Linked DNA regions of Homo sapiens: region 2 is linked to region 1. Evidence: fine-mapped expression QTL. A gene starts in region 1. The other region holds a variant in brackets. All regions are shown on one strand. Distances are between the middles of the regions. Region 1 holds the start of CCPG1 (cell cycle progression 1). Region 2 holds the start of LOC124903496.

What was found. PIP is the estimated chance that this variant, and not a neighbour inherited with it, causes the effect. A credible set is the group of variants that fine-mapping cannot tell apart.
Region 2: its variant is the best candidate, but not a certain one, in a credible set for the expression of CCPG1 in fibroblasts (GTEx, PIP 0.61).

The regions. Positions count from the first base shown.
Region 1 is chr15:55,406,920-55,409,683 of GRCh38, forward strand. It overlaps CCPG1 (cell cycle progression 1), which reads right to left and starts at 1,440. Exons shown (of 9, transcript NM_001204450.2): 1 at 1,302-1,440. PIERCE2 (piercer of microtubule wall 2) reads left to right here and starts at 1,576. Exons shown (of 2, transcript NM_001198784.2): 1 at 1,576-1,867. The coding sequence starts at 1,850. The region is part of intron 8 of DNAAF4-CCPG1 (DNAAF4-CCPG1 readthrough (NMD candidate)); the gene reads right to left. RefSeq lists enhancers at 660-939, 1,300-1,569, 1,620-1,819.
Region 2 is chr15:55,528,735-55,531,761 of GRCh38, forward strand. It overlaps LOC124903496, which reads right to left and starts at 2,194. Exons shown (of 2, transcript XM_047433411.1): 1 at 2,101-2,194. The variant T/A (reference allele first, on the strand shown) is at 1,557.

The DNA of each region.
Region 1 (2,764 bases):
AAATTATGAATTAACGCCCGCGCGGTGGGTCACGCCTGTAATCCCAGCACTCTGGGAGGCCGAAGTGGGCGGATCACGAGGTCAGGAGTCCAAGACCAGCCTGGCCGACACGTTGAGACCCCCCCCCCCGCCCCGCCGTCTCTACTAAAAATACAAAATTTAGCTGGGCGTGGTGGCGGGCGCCTGTAATCCCAGATACTCGGGAGGCTGAGGCAGGAGAATCGTTTGAAACTGGAAGGCAGAGGTTGCAGTGAGCCGAGATCGCGCCACTGCACTCCAGCCTGGGCAACAAGAGCGAAACCCTCTCTCAAAAAAAAAAAAAATATGAATTAAAATAATACCCTCACCATCTCCATCTTCTGCTATATGACCTGAACTCAGAAAATAAAAGTAAACCATTCACACTGGATGTGTGTGATAAATATCCCCTGAGACGTGTGGGACCCAATATGATTCTAATCTTAAAAGATACGATGCAGTAATAGCGATATTTCAAGCACTATCCTGTAGATTGGAGGAGACAAATCTAAAATTCATAGTACTATATAGTTAGCTATTCTAACTACAAGAATGCCCAACTGTGTTTTTCAATAAAAGTAGAGCAGAACAGTGCAAACTTCACCACTCAATAAAATACCTTACTTGGCGCTCCCAATAGTGCTAAACATAAACAACGCGTACAAGGCACTGCATGGGACAGCTGCTAATGAGGACAAATCGATTAGGGAGACCAAAGCTAAAGGAGGCCACTGGAACTGGAGAAGGATATGGAGAGGTATTTGATCATCATCAGGCTGGCGTGCTAGCGGAAGTCTCCGGGCATTATTTAATATTTAATCTTTCTATTCCTGACATCACGGGGGCTCAAATGTCATCAAAAGACAGGCTGGCATTAAACCCGGCAGGGTGACGCACATAACATCTTACCATATGGATTTTCATCAGTCCAGACCGACAAGCACCTCAAAGCCTGCCCAGTGAAGGAAGAAGGGTGGCCCAGGCCGTCAGCTCTCCCACCCTTGGCGCGCAGTTCGGTATAGCACTCGGGGTTTGGAGGCTGCAAGACCACCGGACCGGACGCCCCAGGGTCGGCTCGGGCCTCCGGAGCTGTGCACTCGCGCACGGCCCGAGGAGGTCGCCCGTGCGGCCGCTGACACCAGGCGTCAAGTCCCCGCCCGAGCAGCCCCAGCCTAGGAGGCGGACCCCGCCACTGCTCCTCTACTGAGCCGAGCGTGTCGGCCAGGGACTCAGACAGTCGGCACAAACCCCCTCCCGGGGTCTAAGCCCGCCTAGTACAGTACCTGAAGGGGCAGCGCCACCTCCGCCCGATTGTGCTGGCTGCCCCAGTGGCGGCGGTCACAGCTCGGGCGCCAATGACGCCTCTTATAAAAACAACCTGCTCGCAGGCGTCTGCAGCCGGCAGGCGGTGACCGGCTGGGCGCCGCAGTGCATGCCGTGACGCGTAGTCCCGCCTGCGCCTCCTGCCCGGCAGCGGTGAAGAGAAGAACTACCACTCCCGAAGTGGAGCGCAGGCCGCCGCCGGGCGGCTGCGGGAAGCTGGGCCAGGCGGCCGCAGATCCCCACAACATCCGGGAGCCGGCGACCACTTCCAGTTGCTATGGTTACGAGTTGCAACCTCCAGAAAGAATTCGTGGTTTCACCCGGGAAAACAGCTCCCCGGATTAAACGGATAGGTTTACACATACTGATCCACCCAGCTATTCATCTTCTGTTTGCTGCTTTAATTGGGTGCGGTTAAAAGGCCACGTCCCTAGGCGTTCACCGGCTTTCTTGCCATCTGCTGCATGAAAACTGACTTTGCCGAAAAAATTAACAAAGAAGAGCGAAAATGACAGACCGCAACCGGGTGAGTTTAGGCAGAGGGCTAGATGTTTGGGAATGTTGGTATTCGCTAGTATAATTTGAGGCACCACCTACTCCTACCACCCCCAACCCCACAACCCCGAAAAGCACTTTACAAGGCAACTACTGAGCTTTTACATTTACACTTGTAAATGCACGTTTCCTTAAGTCCGAATAGCCTCTGAAGGTGTAAAGACCATCGAGATTGTATGCATTCATACCCTACTGTTGCAAACTGTTCAGTGATGGTTTTGAACAAGAAAAACGTACTTTGTTAATTGTATACTTATTTAAATTGCACTGTGTCAAAGAAGGGAGTTGTTTTGAAAAAGGATTTGGTGGCCGGGCGCCGGGGCTCAACGCCTGTAATCCCAGCAATTTGGGAGGCCGAAGCGGGTGGATCACCTGAGGTCAGGAGTTCGAGACCAGCCTGACCTACATGGTGAAACTCCGTCTCTACTAAATACAAAAAATTAGCCAGGAGAGGTGGCGCGGGCCTGTAATCCCAGCTACTTGGGAGGCTGAGACAGCAGAATTGCTTGAACCTGGGAGGCAGAGGTTGCAGTGAGCCGAGATTGCGCCACTGAACTGCAGCCTGGGCAACAAGAGCAAAACTCCGTCTCAAAAAAAAAAAATCTTACATTTATATTCACTCTTTACAGAAGCAATAAAAAGTTTAGGTTTCATTCTCTGTCCCCTAATTGTGGTAAAAGTAAATAAATAAATGGAAAAATTAATAATAAACGTAAACATTAGCAAGGAAGACGGTGGACCTGAGCAGAGACAAAAGAGTGCCTCAAAATTAGACCTTTTTTATTTTTTATTTTTGCTTTTCTATTAACTATATTCAACATCAACAGTGACATCAAAAAATCTTAATTTTATAATTACAGCTTCTGCG
Region 2 (3,027 bases), 120 kb after region 1:
AACCTGAAAAAAAAGGAACAAAAACAAAATTACCTTTATGTAAACAATCCATATTTTTAAAAAGAATAAAACTTGTATACTTGTATTTTTTCTTCACACTGATATAATCAGAAAAATATACGACTTTTTTGGTGTTTTTTTTTTTTTTTTTTTTTTTCCTGGAAACAGTCTCACTCTGTCTCTCAGGCTGGACTGCAGTGGTGCAATCTTGGCTCACTGCAAACTCTGTCTCCCAGGTTCAAGCATTTCTCGTGCTTCAGCCTCCCCAGTAGTAGCTGGAATTAAAGGCATGTGCCACCACACCCAGCTAATGTTTTTTTGTTTTTTTGTTTTTTTTTTTTAGTAGAGACGGGGTGTCACCATGCTGGCCAGGCTGGTCTTGAACTCCTGGCCTCAAGAGACCCACCCAACTCAGTCCCCAAAGTGCTGAGAGTACAGGCATGAGCCACTACACACGGCCTGATACAGTTATTTTTTAAACCCAAATTATCAGTCTAGTTTAATTGCATGAACTTGATTTCTTGTTTTTTTTTTTTTTTCTAAGTGCTTTTTTTTAAAGTGCTTTTGAGCTAGCAGCTTCTGTGAGAAGGACTTTTTTTTTTTAAGCAGGCTATCACATTTAAAGCATTAGACATTCAATTTATGTTGAGGAAATGTTGAGAATATTAGATTTATATAAGTGCTTTTCAGTTTCTCTAAAACGATTGTCATTTTAAGCCAGATAATTGTTTTGTCATGCAGGGCGGTCCTGAGCATTGTGAGCTGTGTGGCAGCACACCAAATCTCTACCCATTAGATGCCAAAAGCACCCCCAAATTGTAACAGCCCAAAATGTCTCCAGACATTGCCTAAAATCCCTGAGGAGAGAGTGGTGACATTGCTCCAAAACAATCATAACGGTACTCTTTAAAGAGTCTTCTAATTTATTTTACTTATACCCTCCCCCTCCACCCCCGCTGAGGTAGGAATATATCTCAAACTCACACAACCAGAGGTAAAGACTTTTCCCACTAGATGCTCAAAAACACAAGGCTCTTGCAGCTTCAGTTCAGCAAATTAGCAACAGATCCTAAGCAATCAAAGGACACAAACTCACCTGTCTGTTATCCTTTTCAGTGGACTGACTAGTTTGTGCACAGAGTTAAACCTGTGGAACTGTAAGTCCAATTAAAACTCTTTTTCTTCCCAGTCTCGGGTATGTCTTTATCAGCAGCGTGAAAATGGACTAATACAGTTATCAAGTCTCTTCAGTTTTCTCCAATCTCAAAAAGCTCCTTAGTCTTTGAAAGAGTACAGGCCTTACCTTTTGTAGAGTGATCCTTGAGCTGGATGTTTCCTTATGATCACACTCAGGTCATGCATTCATGGCAGGAATATCATGGAAATGAAACTATGCCCTTGTAAGAGTATCAGCCATAGTACGGACATATGCGGTTGACTGTTCCCACCACTGGTAACATTGGTCATCACCTGTCATATTGGTGTCTGCCAAGTTTCTTCACTGTAAAGTCATAATTTTCTTCTTTGTAATTGATTAGTGTTTTGTGGGAGACAGA[T/A]AATCTGCAATCACACCAATATCCTATTTCTTATTCTTCCTGCAACTAGTCTTAGCCTCCATTGACATAAAGCTACTTATAGCATTTTCTACTTTATCTAAGATAATCATGTTTTTATTCCTAATATTGCTTGTTTGTATAATCTCTTTCTGTCCCATCTCTCTTATTACATGTTTATTAGTTTTTTGAAAGACTAGTAAAAATAACCTTTATTTTTGTTGATCTTCTCCCATTTTTCATTTCATTAACTTTTGCTCTTACATTTGTTTCCATTCTTCTACTTGTTATTCTTCAAACTCTTGAGTTAAATCATAATTCATTTTTTTAAAAGCTCCTTGGTTTTTATAGGTTCATTTAAGACTGCAAATTGGCCTTCCAAATATTGCGAGAGCTGTATCTTAGAATTTTAAAGTTAGGTTTACTGAGGTATAATTTACATGCAGTAAAATCCACTCGTTTGAGATATATTGTTCTAGAGTTTTGATCAATATAAACAGCTATGTAACCTCAACCACAACCAAGATATAAAATATTTCCATCTCACCAAAGTTTTCTCGTATTTCTTTGCAGTCAATTTCCTCCTCCTGTAACTGACTCAAGTTCAACTGCTCACTGTTAGAAGTCAAAGTATGAGAAATGAGGTGTGACCAAAGGGAAACAGCTTTTATTCAAACGCTAGCAGATGGGGAATGTCCAGACTCGTGCTCTTAACAGACTATTTCAAACTTTAGGCCGTGGACAGGGGTTTAAAGAGGGGAACTTGGAATGGAAGGCATGCAGGAATGGTGCTGGGTACGAGGTCTGTGTGTCTTGTTCCACTGGTTATCCTGAGTCATGGTCCACTTGGAGTGCAGGCTGGCATCATCTCAACAATGGTGAGGCTGTTGACTAACTGCTCTGAGGTAATCTCTAGAATTTCACACCTGGGTTTCCATGCCTGGTTTATCTCAAGATTAGCCCCTGCAACTTCTGGGCACATAATTAGATAAACTACCAGTGCACAAGAGTGTCTGGTGGGAAGGCAGGGAAACAAAGAGTATTAAGGTATGTTTCAAGGCTAAAAGGAAGAAAAGGAAGAAAAAAAAGTCTCAAAATGCATTTTGAACCTAAGCTACTCAGTTACATCCTCCCAGCCCCGATCCCTGGCAACCACTGAACTGAATTCTTTTCTTATTGTTTTGTCTTTTTCAGAATGTTATATAAGGAAATCATGTAGTATGAACCCTTTCGTTTTCTTCTTATTTAGCTCAATGCTTTGGAGATCCGTCTGTGCTGTTGTGTTTCATGCATTCTTTTTTTTTACTAAGTATTATATGATATACATGTACAAAGAGTCGTTTGTCCATTCTATAGTTGGTAGACATTTTGGTTGTTTCCAGTTTTTGGTAATTATGAATAAAACTGCTATAAACATTCAGGAGTAAATACTTAAAAATATAATTGCTGGGCCATATGATAGGTTTAAGTTTAC